4 separate regions of the Homo sapiens genome follow, and all the other regions are linked to region 3. Evidence: fine-mapped expression QTL. A gene starts in region 3. Each other region holds a variant in brackets. All regions are shown on one strand. Distances are between the middles of the regions.

What was found. PIP is the estimated chance that this variant, and not a neighbour inherited with it, causes the effect. A credible set is the group of variants that fine-mapping cannot tell apart.
Region 1: its variant is the best candidate, but not a certain one, in a credible set for the expression of INTS8 in whole blood (TOPMed, PIP 0.83).
Region 2: its variant is the best candidate, but not a certain one, in a credible set for the expression of INTS8 in esophagus muscle (GTEx, PIP 0.73).
Region 4: its variant is the best candidate, but not a certain one, in a credible set for the expression of INTS8 in tibial artery (GTEx, PIP 0.56).

The regions. Positions count from the first base shown.
Region 1 is chr8:94,863,208-94,868,207 of GRCh38, reverse strand. INTS8 (integrator complex subunit 8) reads right to left here. Exons shown (of 27, transcript NM_017864.4): 17 at 2,518-2,702; 18 at 2,017-2,050; 19 at 1,012-1,068; 20 at 871-932. Among named protein-coding and RNA genes, the nearest start is that of CCNE2, 29 kb to the left of the region's middle. The variant A/G (reference allele first, on the strand shown) is at 2,649.
Region 2 is chr8:94,873,428-94,878,427 of GRCh38, reverse strand. INTS8 (integrator complex subunit 8) reads right to left here. Exons shown (of 27, transcript NM_017864.4): 22 at 4,951-5,000; 23 at 3,826-3,876; 24 at 2,281-2,354; 25 at 2,143-2,207; 26 at 1,939-1,982. Among named protein-coding and RNA genes, the nearest start is that of CCNE2, 19 kb to the left of the region's middle. The variant G/A (reference allele first, on the strand shown) is at 2,349.
Region 3 is chr8:94,819,957-94,825,205 of GRCh38, reverse strand. It overlaps INTS8 (integrator complex subunit 8), which reads right to left and starts at 1,919. Exons shown (of 27, transcript NM_017864.4): 1 at 1,645-1,919; 2 at 139-313. The coding sequence starts at 1,774. RefSeq lists an enhancer at 1,273-1,332 and a silencer at 1,493-1,882.
Region 4 is chr8:94,920,560-94,925,823 of GRCh38, reverse strand. It overlaps a transcript of NDUFAF6 not described here. Among named protein-coding and RNA genes, the nearest start is that of TP53INP1, 26 kb to the left of the region's middle. The variant G/T (reference allele first, on the strand shown) is at 2,888.

The DNA.
Region 1 (5,000 bases), 43 kb before region 3:
AAAAATGTACATGATTTCTTCAAGTAAATGAACCCTTTTTCCTCCCCTAAAAAAAGTCCCCATCATCTTACTGTGATTCTCAGGTAGTGCATGCAAAAGGGAATATTTCTCAAAGTAATTAAAGAAGTTTAGTTTAGTTCCTACAGCAACTAAAAGAGATTGGGAGCCTTTTGATAACTGCAGCATTAGATGAGACATACAAAAAATTATGAAAAAAGAAATCACTTTCAAATAGATACTTGTAAAAGAAATAAGATGCTGGAAACCTGATAGAAAGTCATTCTTTCATTGGCCCCAATTTTCCAATTCTACTGAAAATCAGGACCACTTATATCTTCTGTTCCAAGGCTGATAAATCTTAACTCCTACTTAAGAGTTATGCTGGGCCAGGTGTGGTAGCTCCTGCCTGTAATCCCAGCACTTTGGGAGGCTGAGGTGGGCAGATCACTTGAGGTCAGGAGTTTGAGACCAGCCTGGCCAACATGGCAAAACCATGTGTCTACTAAAAATACAAAAATTAGCCAGGCGTGGTGGTGGGTGCCTGTAATCCCAGCTATTTGGGAGGCTGAGGCATGAGAATTGCTTGAGCCCAAGAGGCAGAGATTGCAGTGAGCAGAGATTGTACCACTGCATTCCAGCCTGGGCAACAGAGTGAGACTCTGCCTCAAAAAAAAAAAAAAAAAAAAGGGTTATGCCTTATCCACAATTTACAGGAAGATAATTATCATTATCATAATAGAGAAACACAAAGACTGTAGAATCTTAGATTTCTGGCCCTTTAATAAAATTATCTAAGGGTATCTATACTAGTCAGAATGGTTTCCAAATACATAACTCAATTAATAAAATAAAAGCTATACCACTACTTACTTGGGAATGGAAGATGGCCAAATAGAAATGTGTTCAGCTGTAATATCATTCACAATGTCCTCCTTTAAAAAGAAAAAAAAAGGTGTGATTTACAAAGAAATTTCTTTTAAATTTTTCTAAATGAAATTATGAAATACTTACCCGAACATTGTGAAGTTTCACAAAGAGTGATAAAATAATAGTCAAAACGAGTGGTTCCTATGAGAAAGAAAACACAGAATCCTTAAACAGTGTATGTATATTTATTTAATATTGCTCCTGTCAACCTCACAGACATCAAGCATTCTAAAAGACCCTTGCCTTTTGAAAATGTAGCATCTGTTTTAGCATGTGCTTTAGCACACTAAAAATCAACTTTTTAATCGCATGTGGGGGCGGGGCGTGGACCATAGCACATAATTTACATAAAATTAGCATAAATGTTTGGCTTATGGTGCTATCTCCACGCTCAACTCCTCACATGACTCTCAAGTAACTTTTTATCCCTTAAAATAATGTTCAAAGAGTGAAACCTAGGTTACGTCCAATAAGTAAATATGACATTGATCCTACTAAGCAAAAATTAAAGCCAGGCTTCACACATCTAGCCCCTATTATGAAGACTTCTTTACAATTTAAAGAAATACCTGCTCCGTTCACTAAAACATGGTAAAGTAAATGCAATACAAACTTTTCCAGTCAGAATATCCCACCCACCAATAATGATCACTGAAGAAAAGCACATTAACAGGTCACTTTAATAATTTAACCAGAGGCCAGGCAAGGTGGCTAACACCTGTAATCCCAGCACTGTGAGGGGCCAAGAAGGGATGATAATTTGAGACCAGGAGTTAGAAACTAGCCTGGGCAACAAGGGGAGACCTCATCTCTACAAAAAATTAGCTGGGCATGGTTACATGTGCCTGTAGTCCCAGTTCCTCAGAAAGCTGAGGCAGGAGGACTGCTTAACCTCAAGAATTAGAAGACGCAGTGAGTTACAATCACACCTCAGCACTCCAGCTTGGGTGACAGATCAAGACCCTGTCCCTTAAAAAAAAATTAAAAAACAAATAATAATTTAGTCAGTATTTGAAGTACCCAATAATTTTTAGTCATATTCTACAAAAACCAGCAATAGTAATTAGAGCAATTTTTAATAAAACTTACTCGTAATTTTTTGATAAAAGAAAGCAGTTCACTCCTACAAAACAAAAATTTTTGAATACACATTTAATATTAGAAATAAAAAATAAAATCAAGAAAGTAAATTATAGGTGAAGGTTTATTCTTAATGCTCCAATTCTGCAAGTGTGAAAAGGAATGTAATATTCTACTGTTATACTAACCTAATAACATTTCTTCCCTGTTTTAATCACATGTGAAGTCTTCAATACTATCCAACCTTAAATACTACTGATTTTGAATTCCAGTTGATTAAATGATTAATAGTTTCTTAAAATGACATATAAACAAAAGATCTTTCCAAAGGTGGCCAAGGCAGACAGGTTCATCACAGGTGAGTACTACAGAACTCGTAAGATTGTCCAACTTTATGATATACAGAATAAAAGCTGATGTTCTTGAAATCAACCTTTAATAGGTTAATAGTATAAATAGGATAAATATTAAGAACTCAAACACAACTAATAGAAACGTACCAATACATACCGATACATGATACCTAACGTAGATTCCCTCTGTTTTATTAAACTAACTCTGCCATCATTTCCTCGTTTGTGCTGACTGGACACACTACAGATTTGAACAACAACTTCCCAAAGGTCTTTGGCAGTCCGTCT[A/G]CTTTCTTTAGGGCCTGGAAGTTCTTTGCATGTAGCTGCTAAAAGCTGTCCAAGCTATAACATGAAAAACAAAATACACAAAAGATAATCTGTAATGTCGTGCACATTAGTTCTATTATCAAGGCACACTGGAGGAAAGATGGAATGACTGCCCAAACATACTAAGCACAGTTATTTTATGCTGTGCATTCTGTACAACCTTTGAGGAATTTAGGGCTCATTGCGTACTGACAGATCTGAATCTGAGAAAGATCCTCTGGTTCGAGCATACGAACTTTGTTTCTGAACAGTTATAGTCTAATGAAAACGAAAATGAGACAACGCAAAGAGATAGGTGATTTATTAAGTGGAAAAAAAAACGAGTTGCTAAATACACATAGTATGATCCCACGTTACATAGGGAAAAAAAAGTGTAATGGAAGGCATACACCAAGATGTTAACTGTGGTAAAAGCCCAGGGGGTGAGGTTAAAATAGTGCTCAGATCTCTCTCTCTCCCACGTGCAAATACACACACATACAACTTTTAATCACTAAAAAAAAAAATTGTTTCAACGAAAAAAATAAGGAAAGGAATAAGGAAACTGAAGTTGGCAGAATTAAGGGATATAGATTTAAAGCAATTTTTCTCTAAGAAAATTGGTAGCAACTGGGAATGGAGCTACTGCTCTTCTGAGGAGGTAGAATTAAGGCAGGACAGGTTACACAAAGTGACTGGTATGAATAAAGGCAGCCTCAATGACCTAGGATGTAGGGAGGACCCAGAAATAAAGAGTGGGAAAGCTAAAAGCAAAAGACAGGGAAAGATTGACTTACAATAAATTCAGAATTTCTTTTATTTTCTTTTCTTTTTGGAGGCAGGGTCTTGCTCTGCACCCAGGCTGGAATGCAGTGGTATAATCTTGGCTCACTGCAACCTCCGCCTCCCAGGCTCAAACGATTTTTGTGCCTCAGCCTCCTGAGTAGCTGGAATTACAGGCATGTGTCACCATGCCCGGCTAATTTCTGTATTTTTAGTAGAGACGGGGTTTCACCATGTTGGCCAGGCTGGTCTCGAACTCCTGGCCTCAAGTGATCTATCCGCCTCGGCCTCCCAAAGTGCTGAGATTACAGGCTTGAGCCACAGCATCTGGCCAAATTCAGAACTGGGCCCCTTTACCCTTGTTCATATTAACTTTTATACTCCATCGCTCTTGTAGAGGGTGCAGTAGCAAGGATAATTTCAAATCCATCAGGAACCCCTGGTTTCTACTTAAAATGGACCTAGGGGTCCCTACTGCTTAAGGCGGCTTTTTTAAGGAGGTGGCAAGATTGTGACAAGGACAAAAATTGGTGGTTTTTCTCTACATTTTTTTGTTATGAAAAATTTCAAACAGAAAAATAAAAAAAAAAGTTCAATAAATACCTGACACATTGTGACTATTCTGCCATGTTTGCTTTATATATCTACATAAATTTTTTTGTTAAACCATATTAAACTAAGTTAGACACAATATTTCATCCCTAAATACTTCCACATACATCTTCTAAGGACGAGGACATTCTTCTCCATAACCACAACTCTGTGATCATGCCTAAGAAAATTAACAAGAGTACTGTGGCTTTCCGAAGCTCGTGAGAATAACATAAAAACCCTGCCTATACTAGGTGAATAGACATGGACCAATGGCCTAGCAGGATATTTCATCCTGCAAGCTTACCTAAAATACTCTTCTCTGACAAATGGAATCACAATACATGCAGCTATTCACTGCAGTGTAATGCCAGGGCTACTGTAGCTCTTAGCTCAAATTCATCTTCTGTTGTCAGGGATCATATGCTTTAAGGTCACTGAATTTATTACATAAATTTAATTTAAAAAATTTTCAAAGTCTAAGGCCTCAAATCAATTGAATTCCACAAACATTCTTGAGCACCTACTATGTGTGGTGGGCATCATGGAAAGCACAACATAAAAATTAACTGCCCTGAAGCAGTTCATTGTCTTATAGAGAAGACAAGTGGATATATAACTTACTATTCAGCATAAACACAACAAAAGAAATAAGTCAACAGTACAACAGTAGCAGGATCAGTACAACAGTACAAAGGAAGCAGGAAGAGGAAGTGATTTACTCATTTACAGAGAAAAGAATATGGGAAAGCATCAGAGAAATCACACAAACACGCAAAGCTGGAAAGGACATCCTGGCTAATGTGACAAACAGCGTGTGCACAGGTGCAGAATGGAAACATGGCGTGGGCATGCTGGTGCTGCCAGCACAGGGCTGGAACGCCAAGGGGCAGGGGAACTGCACCTGGAGGAGGAGAAGCATGCACACCTTAAGAAGCCTGGTAGGCCACATGAACAACC
Region 2 (5,000 bases), 53 kb before region 3:
TCACAAGGTCACCATTCCCAAGACTCTTAACATCCATGAGGACAGAGCCTGGCCAGTCTTCACTGGTATATCTCAAGCATAGAAGAGGTAAAGAAGTTACTGAGTATGGAAAAGGTAGAGAGAGGACAGGGGCTTAAACAGGAAAGTCTAAAAATTAGAGTCCACGAAGAGAATGTGGACCACTGAACTAGTGGCAGGTAAAACAAAAAAGCTGACGGGTTGGAGACTTGTTTGGCAGTGGCACCAGTCGTAGGACTTTTTCCAATAGTCTCAGTGGCCCAAGAAAATAAAACACGTAAGTTTCTGGACTTATGCAGGGCTAGGGCTTTCCCAGGTGAGGTAAAGGATAAAGGGAAGACGCTAAAAATATTGATCAAGAGTAGTTCTATCATAGCAGGGGTTCCCACACCTGGTTCATCACCAGACTACCCGGGAAACTTAAAAACTGGATTCCAGGGTCCCACTTCAGACCAACTGAATCGGTACCTCTCAGTGTGCAGAATAGTATTTGTTGTATTTGAGATGAGCAGAGAAGGGAAGATGGAAGGGAATGACTGGGAAAAAAATGTCACAAAACTCAATATCCCACTGATCGTGAGGGGCTCAGGAGCAAGGAAGTAAGAGAAGGATAGGTTATGGGCAGAGAGTGGGTTGCAGTATAAGATCTAACAGAACAATTGTGCCTGACAGTAAGACATGGCTTTGGGTGTGAGTGGCTGGTACAGAGTAAAAATAACACCTCATAGATGTGAGGCTGGCAAGGACTTGTAAAGCTCAGGGTGACAGGTAAATTCCTCACGTCTTTTGACACATGTAGAGGAACAACCAGATACTTACAGGAGCTAGTAAGGAAGTAAGGTATGAAGCATAAGGGTCTCAAAAAATGATACAAGTAGAAGTGGTTTGGAAATAGCAAAAAGGAGCTAGGAAAATTTTTCAATATTGCCTTCCAGCCCCAGGTAAATTAGAAAAGGGAGAATGAATTGCCTCCAATCAAGTGGAACTGGCCTTCACATTCTTTTTCCTTTTTGTTTTTAAGTGCTGTTATTATTGTTTCTTCTAAACAATGGGCATATATTTTAGTCCGAGTACAAAGTTTAAAAGACCCTTAATAAATAGCATTTTTTTAAATTAATATAAGTGAAAGAGCAAAGAAAAGATCTGTGGTGATACTGCCACAGTAAATGTTAGACAAGTAAATATGGCCATACAATTTAAAATGTTTTGGCCCATACATCAAATTTAGATAAAGAGTTCATCTAATCAGTGATTCTGGGGCACCTAATATGTGCCAGGCACCATTCTAGGGACCAACTATGACAAAACAAGTCCTTACCCTCCTGGGGAAATAGATATTAGGAAAATATACAGTATGTTAGATGTTGATAAGTGTTCCGGAGAAAAATGTAAAAAGAAATGAGAGTAAGAGTACTGGAGGGAAAAGGGAAGCAGAAATTGTTACTTTATAAGATGATCAGGAAAGGATGATTGACGAGAGATCTGAGGGAAGTTGGATGTTCTTGGAAGAGAAAATTTCAAAGCCCCTTCTTAGGTGGTGAATGTTCTTGGCTTGTTGAAAGAACAGGAGGGGTACTGGTGTAGCAGAAATTAGCAAGGAGGAAAAGTCAGACGGACAGGCTAGAGGTCAAGTTGTATATAGCCTTATAAAGCCATCGTAAGACTTTTAACTTTGTATGAGATGAGAAGCCATTGGAAAGTTTGGGACTGAGAAATGACATGATCTAACATTTTAAAATAATATATAATGACATGGAACAGTTAAAATTATCAAAAAAGGATCTTTTATAAAGTAAACACTGATAATAAAATTCTGGCAGTAACTAGGTACACAAAATCTATTTTTTGTTGGTTCACATCTTAACAATTGTTTAATATTCTGGAAACTGTACCACTGAAGAAAGGCATAAGGTAACTTACTGCAATTTGTCTTTTATCTGTTTCTCCTCTTTTATGATGAAGATCTAATGAATCAGTTAAGGAAAATAAATCTGATAGTATTAAATATAATGAGAGAATCTCAACTCATTTTCAGTTTTGATTTGGAAAATATACAATATTAAATATTCCTTTAATTTATAAAAATGGATCATTCTAACATCACACACATGGATGAAAGGATACAAGTCAAGTATTCCAAAATGGTAACATCCCATATGTAGTCGTAGTAGGAGTCCATAGCATCATGACTGAAAGACAGAATTCAGTTACTTCTTAAGCAGAAAAATGTTGACCTCATTATTTTTAAAATATTATTCATACCTGTTTTGTTCTTGCAGAGATTTAAACGCTGTTTTGTAGTCAATTTCTCTGAGGAACTGACATAAAAT[G/A]GCCACCTACATTAACAAAGATTTGAAAATGGTTTCATGTAATGAAAGCTTGGTTTTACAAGGTAATCTTGAATTACTCTTATATTAAGCCTTATAGATCACATTGAATCCGCTCATAGTTATGGATTCCATCCAATTTTAATTTCAAAAACCTTTATACACGTGTCTGTCTGACCAATATTCTCTTCATCAGTGACCTCAACCACAAATTTTAGAGGTTTGTTTGAATGAGAAGCTGGCAAAAAGCCAGTTCAGAAAACTGAAGGGGATGGAAAACTGCCAAGCAAAAGTGTCATGACATTCAAGGACATACAGAGTGTGCAATTAAACCTTTCATAGCTGGCAAGTATAGACGCTCATTTTGGAAAATTTAGGCTGCCAATCTGCTTAACATAGAAAACATTTCACTCAGGTCATAATGTCCATCTCTTTAAAAAATAGTTTTTATTAATTTAATTCAGAAACCATAAAAGTTACCCTCTTAAAGTACCCAATCTGGTGGTTTTTAGTATATTCACCAAGTTGTACAACCATCACCACTATGTAATTTAAAAACATTTTCATTACTTCCCCCAAAAAAGTCCATTAGCAGTCACTCTCCATTCCCTCTCACCTCAAGCCTCTGATAACCACTAATTTACTTTGTCTCCATACATTTGCCTACTCTGAACATTTCATATGAATGGAATCATAGACTATGTAGCCTTTTGTGTCTAGCTTCTTTCACTTAGCATAATCTTTCAAGGTTCAGCCATGCTGTACCACGTAACAGTAACTCATTCCTTTCTATGGCTGAATAATATTTCATTGCATAGATATGCTGCATTATGTTCAGTCATTCATCATTTGATGGGCATTAGGGTTGTTTCTACTTTTTGGCTATTATGAATGATGCTGCTGTGAACACTTGTGCACAATTTTTTCTGTGGACATATGTTTTCAGTTGTCTTGGGTATACACCTAGGAGTGAAACTGCTGGGTCATATAGTAATTCTTATGTTTACCTTTTTGAGGAACTGGGAAACTGTTTTCCTGAGTCTACACCATTTTGATGCTACACCATTTTATATTCCCACCAGCAACATATGAGGGTGCCAATTTCCCCACATCCTCACCAACATTTGTTTTTAAATGTGTTTAGATTACAGCCATCCCAGTGGGTAGGAAGTGGTATCTCATGGTTTTGATTTGCATTTCCCTAATGACTAATGCACATTTCTAAAGTATCTTTAAAAACCTGAAAAATGCTTTTTTCCCACTTAGGAGGTTTAAAGGTCAATGTTTTTAATTCATACTTTCATTTTAGTTGACATTCTATAAACTATTTAAAAAAATTTAAAGAATATGCCAAACTCTTACATACCCTAAGTGATTTTGATATGGAAAATAAAAGCTAATTTCCAGTTCAATGCTTTATATTTATTATAAACTCTAACATATGTAAAAATAAAACAACTTCATAATATTATAAACTAACCTGTGTGTGGCAATTCAGCAAAGAACAACATTTTATCATTCGTTTTATTACCTACAAAAGCAAAATTCTCATTATTTTCAAAAACCAGCTAACATGGATTCTAACAAATGTGTCACTCTGGTATGGGATGTCAAAAGAGGAAGCTGTGTGTGGAGGAACGGGGGATATATGGGAACTCTGTACCTTTTATTCAATTTTGCTGTGAACTTAAAAGTGCTGTAAAAAATAAACCAAAAATCTAATAAATGTTCAATCTTATTTTGAAAGCCATTATAAGTATTTTTAAAATATCATTTAAGTTATGGTACTGGTAGCCTACATCAGAGGAAATGGCAATGCATATCAAAAAAAAAAACGGACAAAATTTGACACCAGGTGCAGGAATGGGGAGGAAATGGGAAGAAGTAGGTCAAATGGCACAAATTTGCAATTAGATAGAAAAAGTCTAGCAAACTGATATACAGTATGAGGACTAGAATTCATTATACCATAATGTATACTAAAAAATTGCTGAGAGTAGATTTTAGGTGCTCTTATCACAAAAAATGGGTAACTAAGGAAGGCAATGGATATGTTTTTTTGTTTGACTGTAGTAATCATCTCACTGTGTATATTAAAACATTATTCTGTATATCTTAAATATATACCAAAGAAATTAGGAAAAAAAAATAGGGATTTAGGAGATAGAATCCACAAGATGTGAGAGCTAACTGGATGGTGGCAGGAGGGTCAGTAAAGAAAAAAGCCAAAAATGATAGTCAGGGTTTGGGCTTGAACTACTCAAATGGTTAAACAAAAATGTTTGGTATTTTGCAGGTTTTTTGTTTTTGTTTTTGAAAGGACAGGTGAATTTATTAGGAGTGTATTAGGAGTTTATTACTTTATGGTAAAGACAGACACAAATCAGTTTGGACAAGTTGAATTTGAGGTGTTTTGGGGGAATCAAGACAGCAATAGGTGCTAGAAATAAGGACAATGAAAATACACAGAGCAATGTGTTCTAGAGCCATGAACCTGGGACTTACGATCACATTACAAGGAAATGGGTAAGTTCAGCCAAAAGGGGACCCAGGAAGAACATATACAGGTAGGCAAGAAACCAGCCAGCCCACGAAAACAATTCACCTGGTCTGTATAAACATCAGGGGGCACAGCCTTGTTAAAGAAGTCAGAAC
Region 3 (5,249 bases):
GTGCCGGGATTATTATAGGCGTGAGCCACGGCGCCCAGCACGTAATTTTTAAGAGCCGATATCATAAAAGCATATATAGAAATAAACCAAGATATCTAAATAGCACTTCAAATGAAATTTCACTGAAATCTTGGATACCTTTTCTCTAATATGTCTAAGTCCCACTTCAAATGTGCAGCAACTTTAAGAGCAAGTAGTTTTAAAATACGATTTCTCTTGTTATCAGGCGGAGGTTGAACTTGGTTTTGTTCATTAACTGAAGGTTTGGAAGCCTGTTCCAAAAACTGAACTATAAGTTGAACTGGTGCAGGATCTAGGGTTTAAAAGAAAATAAATTCTTAAATTTAAGTTTTAATTATGTAGATACAAAAGGATTCACTATTGGTTTGGTTTTTTTGGGGGGGTGGGTGGGGGGGGGGGGAGTTTGGGTTTTTTTTTTGCCACAAAAGGAATCCAAACAGCTGCGCTGTTAAAATGACTAAGGAATACGTATGTAAGAAGTGTGCCTGGGGGTTAAAGGAGATGCGGAAGAGTGGTAAGGAGGAAGGGTAACAGATTAGAGTGGAAGAAAGCAAAAAAAAGCACCTTACGGGGAAGAACATAACAGTCATAGATTTCTGGTTCTGCAAATAACCACTGCCAATTAGAAGAATGAGATATAAATATTAGAACTATTATTTTGACACTTAATTAGGGGGACCTCCATCAAGTGACCTCTCCGTACCTGCTTCTTCCAATGCAAAATAGAGGATCATTTTGAAGATTAAATTAAAGGAGGTAACGGATGTGAGCAATTAAGCACAGTGCATGGCACCCGGAAAGCACTCAACAAATTATCTTTCAAAAGGAATGAATTAAGGGCATTATACAGGTGCCAAAACTGCCTAAGTACACTAACTTCTTACACAGTGGTCTCTATCAGTGAAGGCCAGTCTGAGACTGAACAAGCCATATCTAGATTTGAATTTAGAGAAATGCTATCCGAGGAACTTACCTTTTTGTGCCAATACCTTTTTTGAGAATGCCTGGAGTTTTCCTCCTCCCCCATCAATCACACCCATTTAACTGGGCTATTAATCATTATCATCACTATACAAAGCCATCTTGCAAATGTGCAGCAGTTCCTACTTTCAAAGATTTTCTTTTAACTTACAGCCCAACTTTGGAATAAGAGTCAATAAAATTCCCTCACTGAAGAAAAAAATGTTTAAATAAAACCTAAGATAATAACTAGCGTCACGATCAACACCCAACAGCTGGTTTCTCCCCAGCTCCCTGAATTTATTCAGCTTGGGGTTGAAGGAGGCGTCTGGTCAGCCTCCCCGACCCAAGCAACCACAAGACCCGCCTCGCAGCCTCTAAAACCCCAACAGTAAAAAGGTAAATCGTAAAAAGGACCAAAGGGTTTAGGATGACAGCACCAAGCCCTCCCCTCCGGGGGTAGGAGAGCCTTTGTTTCGAGCTTTTCTTTGACCCTCCACCCGGGCATGTTTAAGGGAAGCGAGGAGCCCGGCCGGAGCTGGGCTCCTGTGCGCGCCTCCCAGGCCGCAGCTTCGGTGACCGAGAAGGCGGGGAGCGGAGGGAAGCTGGGCGGACAGCGCCGGTGGCCGGGTCCCGCTCCCCAGGTGCAGGCGCCGCGCTCACCCGGGCAGGGCTTGCGCAGATGTTTCTCCAACAGTGACTCCTCCAGCAGAAACTCAAACCAGCAGGTCTGCGGCGGGGTGCAGGGCCGGCTGGAGGTGGCCGCCTCCCGGTCCGCCGCCTCCGCGCTCATCCTGCCCCCGCCGCCGCTACCACCAGGGCCGCTTCCCGGCTCCAACCTGACACTTGGATGCGGGCCGGTGCCTGGGGTATGCGGAACCCGGTGGGAGAGAGGCCACCCTCCGAACGTCCCGGAAACTCACACAATCCAAAATGGCGGCGCGGGCCAGCCGGAGCTGCGGTCCTGGATCCGCCTCCCCGCGCCACCGCCGCGCCTTCGGACCAATCGTTGTTCGGGTTGGAAGGAAAGGGGCGTGACTAACCTTCGAACCACGCCTCCTCCCGGTTGCCATAGGAGACGGCGCCGCATGAAGCCGGGTCGCGGGTGGGTTTTCCGTGTTCCCTGACAGTTCTCCAGCGAGAAAATGAGACAACCTCATCTAGGGTTGCAACGGGCCTCAATATTTTCGTAAAGGCGAAGCGAAGGGTTCTAGTTGTGACCCAAGCAAAGTTTATCTCCTGTGCTTTCAATTTCCCCGTTCCCATTTCTGAGATTTCCTCGCACCTGGGTCCTCTCCTCAGATGCTCCCGCCGTCCTGCCGAGAACACCAGCTTCCCACTCGCTTCCTGGACGGATGGCAGCATACGGTGAGCAGCCCTTGCTGCTAGCTCCCGATACTTAGAGCCTAGTTGATCCTTTCGATATCCCCGCTAGAGGCGCTGTTAACCCTATACATTTACCTCCGTTCTGTGATGTTCTTGTATTTTTCATTAACGATTAAAACTGAAAAAAGATGCATTCATAGATCGTGAATACAAGGCCAGCCTGACCAATATGATGAAACCCCGTCTCTACTAAAAATACAAAAATTAGCCGGGCTTGGTGGCGGACGCCTGTAATCCCAGCTGCTCAGGAGGCTGTGGCAGGAGAATCGCTTGAACCCGCGAGGCGGAGGTTGCAGTGAACCGAGATCGCTCCATTGCACTCCAGCCTGGGCAACAGAGCGAAACTCTGTCTCAAAAAAAAATTTTTTTTAAGTAGCCGGGTATGGTGACACACACCTGTGGTCCCAGCTACTCAGGAAGCTGAGGCGGGAGGATCACCTAAGCCTAAGAGATTGAGGTTGCAGTGAGCTGTGATTGTGCCGCTACACTCCAGCCTGGGCAACAGAGTGAGACCCTGTCTCACAACGAGAAAAAAAAAAAGAAAGAAAAAAAAGGAAATCAGTACAGATTAACTTGACATTTTGACATTTGTATTACATATGTAAAAATAAGTTTTAATTAAGGAAGAGTTCATTATTCCACTACCATCTAATACAATAACAACATTATATATTTCAAGTCCCAAGGTGTTTTATTTAGACTCAAAAATGTCTTGCCATAAAAGTGTTACAGCACTGAACTCCCCTTTTCAGAGTGGGTAATTGAATACTTGAAGGTTGACAGAGATCTTGAAGTTTATTAAACTTAGAGACCATCTCTTAGAGGGAGTCATAACTTAAGACTTCATCAACATTGGAGGAGTCTAATGAACTCAAGCTTCCAGCCAGGGACTCTTGTCCCTCTAATGCAGGGCAGGTGACCCCAAATTGGAACTTCACCCCAGAGAGTTCTTTGCTTTGTCCAGGAAAGAATTCAAGTGTGAACCAGTGGTAGAAGAGAACAGCTTTACTGAAGTGGCAGTGTTACAGCTCTGTGACTGCCCCTGCAGAGCAGGGCTAACCCACAGGCAGTGCGCTGAGAATACCAGCTCAGGGAGGTTCTGCAGGCATATTTACACCCACTTTTAATTGCATGCAGATTAAGGGGAAGTTTATGCAGAAATTTCTAGGAAAAAGGTAGTAACTTCTGGGTCATCGGGTCATTACCATAGAATGGGGTGGCAATGCCCAGGTGTTGCCATGGCAATGGTAAACCGACATGGCACACTGTTGAGCATGTCTCATGGAAAGCTGCTTCAGCCCCATCCCTGAATTTGGTCCGGTGTCCAAACCCTGACTCCAGAGTCGCATCTCACCTCCTACCTCACTTCTGAGCAGTATGTTTGGAGGGTGTCTGTCAGAAGACCCTCAAAACTACCAGTTGCTTCTGCTTTGATGCAAGACACATATCCCAGCTGTGGCCAAGTTTGCTTGCCTGGGTCTGGAGTGACACATCTTTCCCTGTCAGTGTGTGACAATCCTGGTGTGGGTTCAGTGTTCTTGAAAGGTGTCCCAGAATGTCAAAAAGCCAAGGCTTCTTCAACTTGCTATGTCTTCGGCTCTCAGAAACAACAGAGGCAAAAGAAATATTTAAAATTTTGATTTAAAAAATAATACACTTGGAAAGATACCATCAGGAAAGTGGAATGACAACCCAAAGACTAGAAGAAAATATTTGCAAATCATGTGTCTGATAAGGGACTTACATCTAGAATATGTAAAGAACTCTTACAACCCAGCAACAACACAGTGAGTAAAGGATTTGAATTGGCCAGGCACGGTGGCTCACGCCTGTAATCCCAGCACTTTGGGAGGCCGAGGTGGGTGGATCACCTGAGGTCAGGAGTTCAAGACCAGCCTGGCCAACATGGTGAAACCTCATCTCTACTAAAAATACAAAAATTAGCCTGGCATGGTGGCGGGCACCTGTAATCCCAGCTACTTGAGAGGCTGAGGCAGGAGAATTGCTTGAACCCACGAGGCAGAGGTTGCAGTAAGCTGAGATTGTGCCACTGCACTCCAGCCTAGGCAACAGAGCGAGACTCCGACAGAGCGAGACTCCATCTCAAAACAAAAAAAAAAAAAAAAAAAAAAGGATTTGAATTGATCATTCTCCAAAGAAGATATTACAAATGGGCAATATGCACATGAAAATGCTCAATATCATTAGTCGTTAAAGAAACACAAATCATCGGCCAGGTGCGGTGGCTCACGCCTGTGATTTCATCACTTTAGGAGGCCGAGGTGGGTGGATCACAAGGTCAGGAGTTCAAGACCAGCCTGGCCAAGATGGTGAAACCCTGTCTTTACTAAAAATACAAAAATTAGCCGGGCATGGTGGTGATGCGTCTGTAATCCCAGCTACTCGGGAGGCTGAGACAGAGAATCACTTGAACCCAGGAGGTGGAGGTTGCAATGAGCTGAGATCATGCCACTGCACTCCAGCCTGGGTGACAGAGTGAGACTGTCTCAAAAAAAAAAAAAAAAAGGAAAGAAAAGAAAAGAAACGCAAATCACTAGCCTGGGCAACAACGTGAGACCCCATCTCTACAAAAAACACAAAAATTAGCCAGGCATGGCGATACATGCCTGTGGTCCCAGCTACCCTGGGAGACTGAGGTGGGAGGATGGCTTGAGCCTGGGAAGCAGGCTGCAGTGAGCTATGATTATGCCACTGCACTCTGGGCTGGGTGACAGAGCGAGACTTTGTCTCAAATAAATACATAAATAAATAAAGCAAAACAAAACTGTGTGAAATACCACTTCACACCCACTAAAATGGCTATGATCAAAAAGACAAAAATAAGTATTGGTGATGATATGAAATTAGAACCTCCATACATG
Region 4 (5,264 bases), 100 kb before region 3:
TCATGCCTGTAATCCCAGCAATTTGGAAGGCCAAGGCAGGCACATCGCTTGAGGCCAGAAGTTCGAGATCAGCCTGGCCAACATGGCAAAACCCTGTCTCTACTAAAAATATGAAAATAAGCTGAGCGTGGTGGTGTGCACTTGTAGTTTCAGCTACTTGGGAGGCTGAGGCAGGAGAATCCCTTGAACCTGGGAGGCGGAGGTTGCAGTGAGCTGAGACTGCGCAGCCTGGGCAACAGAGCAAGACTCTGTCTCAAAAAAAAAAAAAAAAAAAGGATTTCTTTTTAACCTAAAATGAGGAATCACTTAAGTGAACAGGAATTGGATGGTGATCCCCAACCAGTACCTTTCCCTCCAATCAATGTTTAAAAATATAGAATGTAATACACTGGCTTTAGCCTTTTTGAAGCCAGGTGGATGAATTCCCAATGGATCTTCTCCCAAATGAATGGAGATGGAATCTTATAGAAGTGTTTTAGGACAATATGGCCTTCCCTGATGCCATTGATACCCCTATTGTGGAGCTCTAGTTTCAATAGGCCAGTAAACATTCAGAATAATGGAACACGAAGCCCAAAGAATAACTCCCATGTGAATGAATGTTTGGGGCAGATCAGCATTCTACAACTGTAGCTTATTTAAAGTCAGATTTTTATTATCTGAGTCTTTGCTGAGATGAAAAGATTGGGTGCCAGGGGTAAGAAGGAGTCACCCAAAGATGAAAATAAGGTCATGAACGTTGACTTGAGAAGCAGCAGGTTGAAATGAAAGCCCCACTTTGGGCTGGGCATGATGGCTCGTGCCTGTAATGCCAGCACTTTGGGAAGTTGAGGCAAGTGGGTCACCTGAGGTCAGGAGTTCAAGACCAACCTGGCCAACATGGCAAAACCCCATCTCTACTAAAAATACAAAAATGAGCCAGGCATGGTGGCACACGCCTGTAATCCCAGCTCCTCGGGAGGCTGAGGCAGGAGAATTGCTTGAACCCAGGATGTGGAGGTTGCAGTGAGCCAAGATCATGCCACTGCACTCCAGCCTGGGCAACAGAGTGAGACTCTGTCTCAAAAAACAAAACAAAACAGAACAAAAACCCTACTCTGGAATGGCAGGGGAATGGCTGCTGCTGAGAAGACTGTTGCTAGGCCCACTTACAGAGTGTCCAGGGAATCTAGCAGCTTGATCAGGTCTCAAGGCAGTGACTGTATGGAGTCTAGAAGTGGGCAGTCAAACATGAAGGTGGCTTGTGGGGATGGGCACATCAAGGCTTCACAGTTTGATATGTGGCCTAAGATTATCTTGCTCCTTTGCTGTAAATTTGTACAGACCACAAGGTTATTCATTGAAACACTGTCTGCTGTAAATGCAAAATTGAAAAACCTAAATGCTATGCATAGATTAGTTGAATATATTATAACACATCCCCACAATAGAGGTCAATGCAGCTTTTTTAAAAACTGAGGAAGGGGCCGGGTGCGGTGGCTCATGCCTGTAATCCCAGCATTTTGGGAGGCCGAGGCAGGCAGATCACAAGGTCAGGAGATAGAGACCATCCTGGCTAACACAGTGAAACCCCGTCTCTACTAAAAATACAAAAATTAGACGGGCGTGGTGGCGTGCCCCTGTTAATCCCAGCTACTCAGGAGGCTGAGGCAGGAGAATCGCTTGAACCCGGGAGGCGGAGGTTGTAGTGAGCCAAGATCGTACCACTGCACTCCAGCCTGGGCGACAGAGCGAGACTACGTCTCAAAAAACAAAACAAAACAAAACTGAGGAAGAGCTTTATGAACTGCTTGATTTGATTTCTAAACATACTCAAGTGAAAAAAAGCAAAATTCAGGCTGGACGCAGTGGCTCACGCCTGTAATCCCAGCACTTTAGGAGGCCAAGGCGGGTGGATCACAAGGTCAGGAGTTTGAGACCAGCCTGGCCAGCATGGTGAAACCCGGCCTATACTAAAAATACAGAAAAAAAAAAAAATTAGTCGGGCGTGGTGGCGGGCACCTGTAGTCCCAGCCACTTGGGAGGCTGAGGCAGAAGAATTGCTTGAACCCAGGAGGTGGGGGTTGAAGTAAGCCAAGATCCCCTCACTGCACTCCAGACTGGGCGACAGAGCGAGACTCTGTCTCAAAAAAAAAAAAAAAAGTAAAATTCAGAGTATCTATTGTAAGCTACACTTCATGTAAGAAAGGAATATAAGAAAACACACCACTATCAGCTCATTATGCAAAAGAAATACAGGAAGAAAAAGCCAGAAATGAAGGAGTGGTTACTTACAGAGGGTGGATAAAAAGGGTTGGAATAGAAGACAGGAAGTGGAATAGGTTAGTGGGGATGAGAAGAGAGCAACATTTCTTTGAGCATCTAGTTGTATAGATAGCTTTGGCCTTTAGAACTATTAGTAATGTTTCCAACAGTTCTTCAGTCATACTAGTAGTATTTCAAGTGCTCCACAGCCACATGTGGCTAGCAGCTACCATACTGGACAGTGCAGATAGAGAACATTTCTATCATCCAAAAGGTTCTGTTGGACAGTTTTCTCTGGACCTAACAGTTCCACAGACTCTATATAGCAATCTTGGACCACTACTCTGCTAACTTTTTCTCACACCTTACCTGCTTCATGCTATCAGAAACATTCAGGTTGTCACCACCTTTCTTCATGGCCACCCTCCTTCCTATCCGGCCTACAGACTCCCATCTGCACGATTTTGGCCATTCTCATGGTCGCATGTCAACTTTCAATCGTTTCTCTTTCCGACATGCCTGTTCTGCTAACCTCCAACTACAAGTCAATCTGAATGCAAGGCTTGCTTCTACATTTGAGCTGCCTAAGAGCAACTGGAAAAAAAAATGACTCTTGTGGGGATCACGGCCATGAGACATGGAG[G/T]GGGTACGAGCTCAAGTGCCAGTTTGGCAATTCTTTTGTGTGCAACTGGTCAATTCTCTATACGATTCCTTCTCTACTCTCAAGATCCCTAACATAGTGCTTATCAAACTTTAAAATGCAAACAAATCATCTGGGGGATCCTGTTAAAAATGCAGATTCAGCCAGCGCAGTGGCACATGCCTGTAGTCCCAGCACTTTGGGAGGCCGAGGTGGGTGGATCACCTGAGGTCAGGAGTTCGAGACCAGCCTGGCCAATGTGGTGAAAGCTCATCTCTATTAAAAACACAAAAATTAGTTGGGTGTGGTGCCGGGCACCTGTAATCCCAGCTACTCAGGAGGCTGAGGCAGGAGAATTGCTTGAACCCGGGAGGCGGAGGTTGCAGTGAGCCAAGATTACACCACTGCACTCCAGCCTGGGTGACGGAGTGAGACTCTGCCTCAAAAAAAAAAAAAAAAATTGCAGATTCTAATCCAGTAGGTCTGTTGTGTATGGGGCCAGAGATTCTGCATTTCTAGCATGATACGCATGCTGCTAGCTCAAGAGCCATGAGCAGCTAGGCCCTAACCCAGTGGTTCTCCAACTTCAGTGTGCACAATTTCCTGCAGCGCTTATTGAAACACGGATTTGGCCGGACTCGGTGGTTCATGCCTGTAATTCCAGCACTTTGGGAGGCCAAGGTGGGCAGATCACAAGGTCAGGAGATCGAGACCATCCTGGCTAACACGGTGAAACCTCGTCTCTACTTTAAAAAATACAAAAAATTAGCCGGGCGTGGTGGCACATGCTTGTAGTCCCAGCTACTTGGGAGGCTGAGGCAGGAGAATCCTTGAACCCGGGAGGCGGAGATGGAGGTTGCAGTGAGCCGAGATCATGTTACTGCACTCCAACCTGGGTGACAGAGTGAGACTCCGTCTCAAAAAAAAGAAAAAAACAAAAAAACACGGATTGCTGGACCCCATTTCTGAAGTTTCTAACTCAGTAAATCCAGGATAGAGCCTGAGAATGTGTGTTTCTAATAAATTCCCAGGTCATGCTGCCACTACTATTCCAGGGAATACACTTTGAGACCATTGCCCTAAACCACTGCTGGCCTTCTGCCTCCTATTTCACAGAGGCAATTGAGGCTAATGAGTGAGAAGCCCTATTTGAGCTCCTGTGACACCTGCTCTTCCCATATTTCAGCCATCATCACACTACTGAAGGATGTTAATCTGCATTTTTAGTAGGATTCCCCAGATGGTTTCTTTGCATTTTAAAGTTTGATAAGCACTGTGTTATGGATCTTGAAGAGAGTAGAGAAGGCATTGTATAGAGCATTGGCCAGAAGAATTTATTTGTAATTAAGAAAAACATTGAGTAAAGAAGGGATGTATTTGTGAACATTCTGCATCCATTTCCCTTCTGATAACAGTATCCCAATTTTCTTCTAGGGATCTATTTCTCCCTCCAGAATCGAGGTTAGTTTCAGATGGCATTCACTATTCCCAGCTCCAGGAGTAAGCATATGAATCAGGCCTGGCCAATCAGATATGCATTCCCCCTGGCCAAGGATAGCTCAAGGATAGGACTATGCCCCAGTCAAAGCTAGTAAGATACACTGAGGCTTTCTGGGACTGCCGAGAGAAGCTGAGACTCATCCCCACTTAACTTCAGTCAAGAAACACTTGAAGATTCGAGAACTATGGCAACTATCTTGCTCCACAAGTGGGGGAAGTTGACAGAGATACAGCCAATGTGCAAGAAGGACAGAAGGGGAGATGACTTGCCATAGTGACATAATTTAATATCTTGATCAAGCTCTACCCTTGGACTATTATGTGAGATAAAATTCCTTTTTGCTTAAGCTAGTTTGGGTTGGGTTTCTCTCACTTGTGAGTAGGCTGTTTGTATGTCTCATTGGCATCCAGTAGAGGACTTTAAGAGCTTTTTCTTAAATTTTCTTAAGGCTAGTTCTAGCCTTATTGAAGAGGATTAAGCAAGGTGATCCCAGAGCTGGAGAGGATGAAGGTGAATGCTTTAAGTGTGGAGATTGGTCCTAATAGGCAGCTAAAAACTATGAGCAGGGATGGGAATTAAAGGCTTTCATTTCTTCGGAGGCTCAGCTGCAGCTGAATGCAGAACCCTAAATGAGAGGCAGCTGCGGGATGCTCATAGAGAATGGCTGGCAACACAGCCTGTGAGCAGTGTGCAGCTTTCCAGGAGCAAGCTGGGGGTGGAGGGTCCAGTATAATAGGGCTCTGGAGTGGCATCCTGAAGCACCCATGCCTGGGCAGACATTCTGCAACAACACTGGGCTACAGCAGCCATGATGGAAAGCAGTGGGACTCAAACCCCAGCCCTCCCCTTGTTCCCTTCTACTGCATACTGGGGTTCATG